Linked DNA regions of Homo sapiens: region 1 is linked to region 2. The links come from fine-mapping of genetic effects on gene expression. A gene starts in region 2. The other region holds a variant in brackets. All regions are shown on one strand. Distances are from middle to middle.

Region 1 (5,378 bases), 140 kb before region 2:
AAAAGAGGAGAAAGGTGTTAAACAAAAATCTGGAGGAGGCCATTGTTTTCAACTAAGCAACAAACAGACCAGACTAAAAATCAAAGTGGAGTCACTCATGCTGAAGTGCCACATCACCAAACCAAAAATGAGTTGTTAGCTGGCCTTCCAAAAAATCAGGATAGTGAAACAGCCTCATTTCCCAAATGGGCCAATTTCCACCCAAGTGATAATGAAGTTCCCTCTGCCTTTAATCCTTAAAACAAAAAGTAATCTGAAACTGGCCGGGCACGGTGGCTCATGCCTGTAATCCCAGCATTTTGGGAGGCCGAGGCCGGTGGATCACTTGAGGTCAGGAGTTTGAGACCAGCCTGGGCAACACATGGTGAAACCCCATCTCTACTAAAAATACAAAGTTAGCCAGGCATGGTGGCAGGCACTGTAATCCCAGCTACTCAGGAGGCTGAGGCAGGAGAATCACTTGAACCCAGGAGGCGGAGGTTGCAGTGAGCTGAGTTCATGCCACTGTACTCCAGCCTGGGCAAAACTCCGTCCCCCCGCCAAACAAAAAAACAGGAAAAAAAAAAGTAAGGAAAAGAAAATGTAATCTGAAGTAACCTGGTGTTAACCAATCAATTCCAATCAGTTATTTGTCTAGTGTTCTGTTTCTCTGTTTCTACCTTACAAGGAAAGTAACTTGGAGGAGACCAATCTGCTTTCACTCTTTGGTTCCGCTTTGCTTTCTTCAGCTTTTCTCTGTCCATACCAACCTCCTCTGCTCAACTCATTGGAACACTTACTCTAATTTTATGGAATGAAGTGTTGCCTGATTCTAGAATCACAAAGCCAAGTAAGATCTTTAAATTGTAATGTTGCCGTGAGCCACCACGCCCGGCCCCATGGACTATTTTCTATGGAAAAATATAACTCAAGAACAAAAGGAGTGTCTGAAGAGACATATAACCATTAAAGAAAGTGATGGCTTTGTAATTGTGTCAGTTTGGCTAGGCTGAACTACCTTTCTCAGAATTCCCTCTCTTGTATGTTTCTGGTTAGGGTGGGCCAGGAGATTTGGGAGGTAAAAGGAAAGGAGTTGCTATTTTGCAGCTTACACATGCTGTGGCTGATCTGCAGATTCACCTCATTGGTGTGAAACAGTAGCTAGGCCTGCAATTGCTCTACCTACCCCTGGATCCTATCAGCTTCTCTGATTTCTGGGCTGTGTACATGTGTTTAGCTCCATGACCGAAAGCCTTGGCTTCTGCAGGGCAACTCGATGACCAAGGTCAGAGATGGTAAGAAAGGACACAGGCTTCAGTTCATTTTTGTGGGGTGCCAGCTTGTGCTTGTGGGTTTTAGCCTGCTCGTGATCTTCCTTCCTGACTACCTGCCCTGTAGACTTTGAGCTCCAGCATCAGATATGGAGACCACATCTGGTTTCTACTGGTTATCTACCTATAAATCATCAATCACCTATCTGCCTACCTACCTATCTGTATCTTCTTCTGGTTCTGCCTCTGGTTGAACCCAGACTGACACAGAATTTGGTACTGAGAGTAGTTCCAGAAGAACAGAATCTTAAAGATAAGTGCTCTGAATTGGTTCTGGGTTTTCTGAAATTGGTTCCCTACTCTGATTTGATTTAAAGGTACGAGTAGCCCTGTTTCCAGTGCTAAAGAGGTACTTGTACTCCACAGTGTGAAGTGGCAAAATAGTTACTCAAATTATCACCTTCAGATACTTGCGATCAAGTACCTATAGAAGGCAAACCTCTAGGAGAACAAGTATTTGCTACTTTTAACATTTTAGTCAAAAGGATGAGTATAATAGGGTTGGTTGGTTGGTTGTTTACTGAAGAACTTGGGTAAAGAAAGTGATCAGCTCAAGGTCTACATAAAGGACCTGAATGTTTCTAAAACTACCAGGAAAGAAACTCTTATCTCCTATAGCCACAAGGCTTAGATTTCTGAAAGCCAAACCCGAAGTCTAATCCTGTGAATGCTTGAATGACAATACAAATTGAACTCCCAACCTCTTAGGGTATGTTGCTGAAAGGACAATGATTGGGAAGGAATGGCAGCCTGAAAATTGGAATGGAGACCGGTTAGAAATGCTTGTTCCCCGGTGCCGTAAACAACCAGCACTTGAACATAAATTTAATTTCCTCAGCAAGGCCATTTTTTCACTTTCTGCAGAAAGGGTACACTCGCCAGCAATTTTGCTGTAAGAGTACACCGAACAGAGGAGACAGGGTCATTTAACCTGACGTGTCCACCCTACTGCTGTGTCTGGTTTCCATTGGCTGGAATGGGACCTCAAATTCTGTATTTGTCCTGACTGGCTAGCAACTTAAACTTTTTTGTGTGTGTGTTTTTTTTTTTGTTTTTGAGACGGAGTCTCGCTCTGTAACCCAGGCTGGAGTGCAGTGGCACAATCTTGGCTTACCCCAGTCTCCGCCTCCTGGGTTCAAGTGATTCTCCTGCCTCAGCCTCCCGAGTAGCTGGGACTACAGGCGCATGCCACCATACGTGGCTAATTTTTTTGTATTTTTAGTAGAGACAGGGTTTCACTGTGTTAGCCAGAATGGTCTCAATCTCCTGACCTTGTGATCTGCCCGCCTCAGCCTCCCAAAGTGCTGGGATTACAGGCGCGAGCCACAACGCCCGGCCTGCAACTTAGAACTTTCTAAAAGAG[G/T]GAAAGGCAGAGGAGAACAAAGGAAGGAGGAAGTAACTTGTGGAATGCTGAGAAAGGTAAAAACACCTTCAAATAAGGAAGAGGAACAGGATATGACCTAATGCTTGCTTGGGCCAGTATAAGCATGCCAGGGCAAATATTTAGGCTAAATTGTGGAAGCTAAGAACATAAAGTACATTGATTTCTTTATTACGGCTAGCAGATATTTAAGAATGTTAGCACAGGTCTTTGAATAAATTTTGCTTCTAAGAGAAGTTACTATTTATTCCTAATTAGATGGGGAGGAAAGTCTTTGAAGAGGAACCTCTAGTTTACTGTTTCCAGGACCCACCAGCAGATTTTGATTCTTATTTTCCTTTCCTGGAGAAGCAGCCCTGCCATCCCTGCCTGAGGAGGGTACTTTTCCCCTTTTGGGGCCTGGAGGACCTGTAATGGCCTCCCCTGAATTAGTTGCCTTACAAGGCACTACTGATCCTTCTCAAGTCCTACCCCCACCACCTCTCTCTATTTGGATGTGCTTCTATGAGCCTATATGGAAGATCAGAAGTGCTCGAAGGACTCAAGAGCATTGAAATGGTAAATGTGTGAGTAAAATCTAAATGAATAATAACCTCTTATAAGAGTTAAAATAAGAGTAAAATTACAGAGACTAAATGATAACAATAGTTAGTACATAAGTTGATGAGAGAATAAATGGAGTTAAAGGGTTCTAAGGTCTTTTTATTGTCTAAAAACACGGTCAAAGCAACAATTAACATTAGATTGTGATGTCAAGAATGCATGTTGTAATCTCTAGAATAACTGGTTTAAAAAAATAGTAAAGGTATATAATTTCCAATCTATAGAGAGATGGAATAATAACAATTTTAAAAAGAAGTCAAAAGGGAAAAAGAATATAGAAGAGATAAGCCAAACAGTAATATGGTAGATTTAAATCCAAATATTCAGTATAAATTGATTAATTATCCCTGTCACGGAAACTATCACCTTTGATGGTTTAGGACCACTTCCAACTAAACAAACTCAGGCCTCTGGAGGAAGGCCTAGTCATCCCAATTAAATTCATCATAAAGTAGCCAGCCCCAGCTAACCCACCAGCCAACTGAAGATGCATGAATGAGTTCAGCTGAGATTACCTGAACCCATCCAGGCCAGAAGAACTGCACAGTTGAAGCTAGCCCAAATTGCTGATGTACAAAGTTATGGTCTTATGAACCCCCAAAATTTGAGACAGGTCTCAGTTAATTTAGAAAGTTTATTTTGCCGAGATTGAGGGCACGTGCCCATGACACACCCCCAGGAGGTCCTGATGACATGTGCCCAAGGTGGTCAGAGCACAGCTTGGTTTTACACATTTTAGGGAGACATGAGACATCGATCAACACATGTAAGATGAATATTGGTTTGGTCCAGAAAGGGGACAACTCGAAGAGAGGAGGGGGCTTCTACATCACAGGTAGGCTAGAGACAAACGATTGCATTCTTTTGAGTTTCTGATCAGCCTTTCCAAAGGAGGCAATCACATATGCATTTATTTCAGTGAGCAGAGGGATGACTTTGAATAGAATGGGAGGCACGTTTTCCCTAAGCAGTTCCTAGCTTAGTGATTTTGGGGACCCAAGATACTTCCCTTTCACAGTCCAAATAAGTGATTGCTGGGTTTTTTGTTGTTGTTGTTAGTTTGTTTGTTTTGAGATGGAGTTTCGCTCTTGTTGCCTAGGCTGTAGTACAATGGCGTGATCTTGGCTCACCACAACCTCCGCCCCCCCAGTTCAAGCGATTCTCCTGCCTCAGCCTCCCGAGTAGCTGGGACTACAGGCATGCGCCACCACGCCTGAAGGGGTGGCCTGCCCCTCCGCACCTGTGGGCGTTTCTCGTCGGGTGGGGCGAGAGACTGAGAAAAGAAAGAGACACAGAGACAAAGTATAGAGAAAGAAAAGTGGGCCCAGGGGACCGGTGCTCAGCATACGGAGGACCCGCACAGGCACCAGTCTCTGAGTTCCCTCAGTATTTATTGATCATTATCTCTACCATCTCGGAGAGGGGGATGTGGCAGGACAATAGGGTAATAGTGGGGAGAGGGTCAGCAGGAAAACATGTGAACAAATGTCTCTGTGTCATAAACAAAGTTAGAAAATGTGCTGTGCTTTGATGTGCACATACATAAACATATCTGGTGCATTAAAGAGCGGTATTGCCGCCAGCATGTCTCACCTCCAGCCTTAAGGCGGTTTTCTCCTGTCTCAGTAGATGGAACATACAATCGGGTTTTACACCGAGACATTCCATTGCCCAGGGACGAGCAGGAGACAGATGCCTTCCTCTTATCTCAACTGCAAAGAGGCCTTCCTCTTTTACTAATCCTTCTCAGCACAGACCCTTTACGGGTGTCAGGCTGGTGGACGGTCAGGTCTTTCCCTTCCCACGAGGCCATATTTCAGACTATCACATGGGGAGAAACCTTGGACAATACCTGGCTTTCCTAGGCAGAGGTCCCTGCGGCCTTCCGCAGTGTTTGTGTCCCTGGGTACTTGAGAGTAGGGAGTGGTGGTGACTTTTAACAAGCGTGCTGCCTTCAAGCATTTGTTTAACAAAGCACATCCTGCATAGCCCTAAATCCATTAAACCTTAAGTCGACACAGCACATGTTTCTGCGAGCACAGGGTTGGGGGTAGGGTTACAGATTAACAGCATCTCAAGTCAGA
Region 2 (5,377 bases):
TCCTTCATGTGCAATCTCAAAAGCCAGTAAGCTCTGAAAATTTAAAGTGTTTTCGTAAGTTTGCAGCAAGCTCTTTTGGTGGCAAAAGATGAGCCGAACTAATATGAAACTCTTTTCAGCCTTTACTGAAATTATGTGAATATTCATATTCTGATGTGGAAGTAATAACCTGTTTGATGAAGGGGTGCTGCCCAGATCTGGCTGCAGTTATTATGGTATATATAGTACGTTGTACGCATATTACCTTTCTAAAAGCCAAACATTTCTGATGGGCAAACCACAACTGGTCCAAAGGGTTTCAGATAATGGACTCTGAGGCCAGGTGCAGTGGCTCATGCCTGTAATCCCAGCACTTTTGGGAGGCCGTGGTGAGAGGATGACTTGAAGTCAGGAGGTCGAGACCAGCCTGGCCAACGCAGTGAAACCCCGTCACTACTAAAAATGCAAAAATTAGCTGGGTGTGGTGGCGCACGCCTGTAGTCCCAGCTACTCGGGAGGCTGAGGCAGGATAATCGCTTGAACCCGAGAGGCAGAGGTTTCAGTGAGCCGAGATCGCGCCACTGCACTCCAGCCTAGGAGACAGAGTGAGACCCTGTCTCAAAAACAAACAAACAACAACAAAGAAAACAGATTAAGGGACTTTGGACCTATACCTTATGCATAAATGTTACTGCACTACGATCATTTATTCTTGTAACCCCAGCACTTTGTAGAGTGCTTTGCATATAACAGATACACCACAAATATTTCCTAAGTGAGGAAACAAGGCTAAGAAATTAGTTAAGAAGGGAAAATGGTCAGTGCCTTGGAAATGACCATGGCTCCCAACTTGCAGGTCAGGCCTCTAACCCCTGAATGCCACTTCCTTCGTTGACTTTGAAGGCCCTATAAATAGTTGCTGTTGATTGAGGGCAAGAAACATAGCTGCTGTCTTCACTAGGAATAAAAATAGTTCAGTGGTCTTACACTGATGGACCCACACATAATTTTAGCCCAGGAATACAAAGCATAGCAGGCAAATTCATACCTCGGACCACATGGGCAGTGTCATAGGACCCTGTGAGCTTGGGAGCCTTTGGGTCTGACCTGCTACATGCAGTGACCTTTCTAGCCTCACAATTTTCTTATCTGTAAAATAGCAACCAAAGTAGCCCCTAAGGGCTTCCCAGGTGGGTCTCTACCAAGACAGCTCATGGGAGGGACGGTAGCTGTCGCCCCACACTGCAGAGTCCTGCGTAAACTTCAGGAGCTTCTTCACTCCTGTCTACTGTTCTCATTCAGTGTAGTCTGTCCAAACCCCCCACACCTCTTCTCGTCCAAAAAAAGCAGAGTCAATGCAAAAAGAGGCAGTTTGGACCCGGGCACGGAGGCGGCTCATTCTCATCCTGAACAATGGCCAAAGAATTCTGTGAAAAGTAGCCGTAGCAACAGTTAGGTCCCCTGAATCTTAAGGAGCACGGGGTGGCAATGGGGTGGTAATCACTGGCTAGCAAGGACTAGATTCAAATAGCAAACTCTTAATTGCAAGGTCTCAGGTCACAAGAGGGCCAGACCTGGGAAGGAGAATGAGTTACATGAGAGGGTAGTTCCACGCGTTCCCTGGGGGCGGTCCCTCCTTACCTGGTAACACAGGATGGTTTGCTGCACCAGCCGCGCGTACCCGTCCAAGCGGACCCCGGAATTGCTCCTGCTCCGCATCTCCCCGAGGCTCCCAGGCCGCAGCGCCCGATCTGCCGCGTGGGCGCGGGACGTCGGGGCTGTGGCCTCCAAGCGGGTCTGGTTCCCGGACACTCACAGCCTTAGTCGGTTCTTGGGATGGGACCGGGCCGGAGGAGGTCGAGACTTTTCTAAACGCTAGCCCCAAAGTCCGGTTGGAAAGCAAGCCAACCAGAGCTCCGCGCGGCGGGGAGGCGCGGGGGCGGGGACGGGGGCTGGAGCGACGAAGGTCCCGCCTCGGCCAGGCCTGCTGGGCTCCCGACGCTCGCGGGAGCAGCGGGAAACCAGGTTCCGGGAGTGGGGCGAGGACGCCCCTGCCAAGCCCCTTTTACGTCCCGGCGGTCGCGAGGAGGTCCCCCGGGCGCGAAGAAGACGCCAGCCCACCCCAGCCGCCGGGGAGATCGCCCAGGCCGCGCTCAGCCCCGCCCCTGGCTCTGCCCCCGCCGCGGAGCGGAACCCTCCAAGTCGCGGCCTGAGGAGGAAGGAAAAGGGGGCGGCCCGGGAGAGCCGCTGCGAAATCAGCAACGGGCGGGAACCAGGTTGCCTCCCTGAGTCCCTTCTCTCCCCGGCCGGCTGCCAACCACAGCCAAGGCCAGAGAAACAGGCCCTTCTGCCGCGGCCACCTGGGCGCCTTGGACCCGCCCTCCGGACTCGCCCCCGCCCCTGCCGCGGAGTGGAACGTTTGGAACCCTGAGGGGCACAGGTAAGGGGGCGGCCCCGCCCCGCGCCCTGGAACGACCTCACGGCCCCGCCCACATCCCCGCCCCTGGCCCCACCTCCGCCGCAGAGCGGAACCCTCAGAGTCGCGGCCTCGGGGGGGACGAAAAAGGAGGCGGCCCGTGGGAGTCTAGGGGAACCCGGCTTCGGGCGGCGGACGAGTTGGCTTTCCTGCGTGGTAGTGTGGAGCCCCCCGAGACGGGTGCCAGTCCCACTCGAGGCCGGAGAAAGAGGGCCGCCTACCGCGGCCGCCTGGGCACCCCTCTGAGGGCCAAGATTGTAGTCCCACCTCTGGCCCCGTCTCCGCCGCCTAGCGGAACTGGAGTAGCGGGACCCAGCCCGGAAGAAAAAGGGGGAAGGCCCGGAGAGGTGCCCCAGCGACACCTCTGGCGCCTGTGACCCCGCCCCTAGCCACTTGGGCGCCGCTTCCTCGGGCAGGTTCGCAGTTCATCTCCCACGGGTCTACAGCTTGAAACTTGGCATTCATTATAATGTTTCGTGGCTGCTGATAACCTACAGTTCACAATCTTCGGCCTGGTATTCATTGTCCACCAAAATCTGGCCCACATAGGAATTTACTGGACAGCTAGACTAATGCAATCAATTTCCGCAAGCTCTTTTCCAGTCTCCATGCATTTACTCTATGCTTGACCCCTTCGGCCCTTCTTCCTCCTCCTTGACTAACTGAAGCCTATCTTTCCCTTAACGGCCAGCTCAGCTCCTCTATTAGCCTTCCCCATTTTCTGAATTTCTGTAGCCATTGGTTTAGTAAGAGCTTAGGACTTAGAGTCAGTTCATTTTGAGTTCAAATGTCAGTTCTGTCATTTACAAGTCGTATGACCTTTGGCATCCCGTTTTACATGTTTGAACTTAAGTGTTCTCATCTGTAAAATGGAGATAATCATAGCACCTACCTCACAGGATGACTTAAGATCAAGAGGATGAATATAAAGCATTTAGCACAAGCCTGGCTAGTAGAAAAATACTTAATAAATCATAGCTAATTTCGTTGTCACTTGGCCACAATGTATTGCCTCCTGTTGTTATTTATGTTTTCATGTGTGGATGAGGCATATTTTCCTAATTGGAATGTACGTTATTCATTGAAACAGTCTTTTGGTATCTCCTACTATGCCTGGTACAGTGTTGAGCATATAGTTGGAGCTCAATTAATGTTGCTCGCATGAGTAAATGAAATCAGTCCTGCTTAGCTGCGTTCCCTTATGTTTGGTCCTTAACCAAGTTTATATTAGATATTCCAGAACATAAATCTATGGCTTTACTCTGTCACTCAACTAAAGCACCAAACCCCACATCAGCTCACATATTACTTCATATAATACTTTGTTTTCTTAATATTGGCTTTTGAATTATGCAGTGATCCATGTGATGTGCCTCCATGAAGAATTTGCTGTGGTCTAGGGGTGAATAAAACTAGACATTGTTATCACCACTAAATGTTTTGGAATCTGAATATGTACTCTTGCTAGAATTTTCATGTATTCATCTCCATCTAAAAGCTGGGATCATTGCTTCTTTTCATTGTGGCTTTTGTTTCCATTGGGTCCTTCCTTAGGAGTTGATTTTGCAGCCATATGGGAAATAACTGATGATCTTTGCTCCTTATCTGGCATTTCCACCTAGTATAGAAACATTTTCAGTTTCCTGACTTCATTCTTCGCTAATTCTGCTGTGCACATTTGCACCCCTTTTGGTGTATAGGCAATCTACATTCTTCGGCTTTGGTCTATGCGATTGCATAGCAATATATAAGCTATGTTCTTCAATAAGCTCAAAATTCTGGGATAAAACCAAGAAGGAAGGCTACTCCGTTTTAGCTTTTAAATTTTTAAAGCAAATTTTAGTGATTCATTTTGGACCAGAAAGCTGTACTATATAATAAATCAGTCTCACATTTTAGTATCCTCATATCCCTGAGGTGCAAAACCTCCATATCTTGGTCCCCATATCCATGAAGCCATTCTCTGGTTATCACCAATAGAAACTTGTCTCCAAGTCATTTCTCAAATATTTGTCAAGAATCAGATATAGTATAATGATAGGGAATGTTATTGTTTCTGAAGCTGATTCATGATCTCCATAAAAATGAAGACCCAGAACTGGACCCTGGGGTAGCACCATGTATGATTTTTCTGACCCCAGCCAGAGGATCTGCCATCATCCTGCCACAGAGACTTCAGCCCAGGTAGTTTCCAGAGAGCCCCATGTTAACATCCAAGGTGGAAACCAATAAATGTTTCTCTTGTAGGGTTCAGGTCTTTGGCTCTAAAGAAAATCACTCCATCTTTGACCCAGAAGGTCAATTCTGAATGAATTTGCTGAAAATGACCAATTCACCAAATTTAGTTATTTCTATGATAATTTAGTTGACTGGAAATCATTTTTTCGTTACATTTTAAAGAATGTTGAATTTGTCTCTGCTCCAGCTTCCTGTAGCTCGTTTGAGGCTAAGAGATAAAGAGAGGAAACACCAGGGAACATAAGATTTCTTCACAGTGAGGAATATATTTATTAAATATATTTAAAAGAATATATTCTAAAAGAACATATATTCCATTTTTGCCTGCTCTGACTTCTTGATGCTGTACCTGGAGACTAACATGAAAAGAAAGCAGTATATACTGGCCAGGCGCAGTGGCTCACACCTGTAATCCCAGCACTTTGGAAGGCTGAGGCTGGTGGATCACTTGAGGTCAGGAGTTCAAGACCAGCCTGGCCAATATGGTGAAACCCTATCTCTACAAAAAATACAAAAATTAGCTGGGCATGGTGGCAGGTGCCTGTAATCTCAGCTACTCGAGAGGCTGAGGCAGGAGAATTGCTTGAACCCAGGAAGTGGAGAGTGCAGTGAGCCAAGATTGCACCATTGCACTCCAGCCTGGGTGATAGAGCGAGACTCTGTCTCAAAAAAAAAAAAAAAAAA

The links. PIP is the estimated chance that this variant, and not a neighbour inherited with it, causes the effect. A credible set is the group of variants that fine-mapping cannot tell apart.
Region 1: its variant is the best candidate, but not a certain one, in a credible set for the expression of PHKA2 in whole blood (TOPMed, PIP 0.71).

What each region holds. Positions count from the first base shown.
Region 1 is chrX:18,841,982-18,847,359 of GRCh38, forward strand. No RefSeq gene overlaps it. Among named protein-coding and RNA genes, the nearest start is that of PHKA2-AS1, 46 kb to the right of the region's middle. The variant G/T (reference allele first, on the strand shown) is at 2,674.
Region 2 is chrX:18,982,235-18,987,611 of GRCh38, forward strand. It overlaps PHKA2 (phosphorylase kinase regulatory subunit alpha 2), which reads right to left and starts at 1,880. Exons shown (of 33, transcript NM_000292.3): 1 at 1,621-1,880. The coding sequence starts at 1,698. LOC101928415 (a long non-coding RNA gene) reads left to right here and starts at 5,353. Exons shown (of 4, transcript XR_001755808.2): 1 at 5,353-5,377. RefSeq lists enhancers at 1,682-2,182, 2,183-2,683, 2,665-2,714 and a silencer at 1,875-2,564.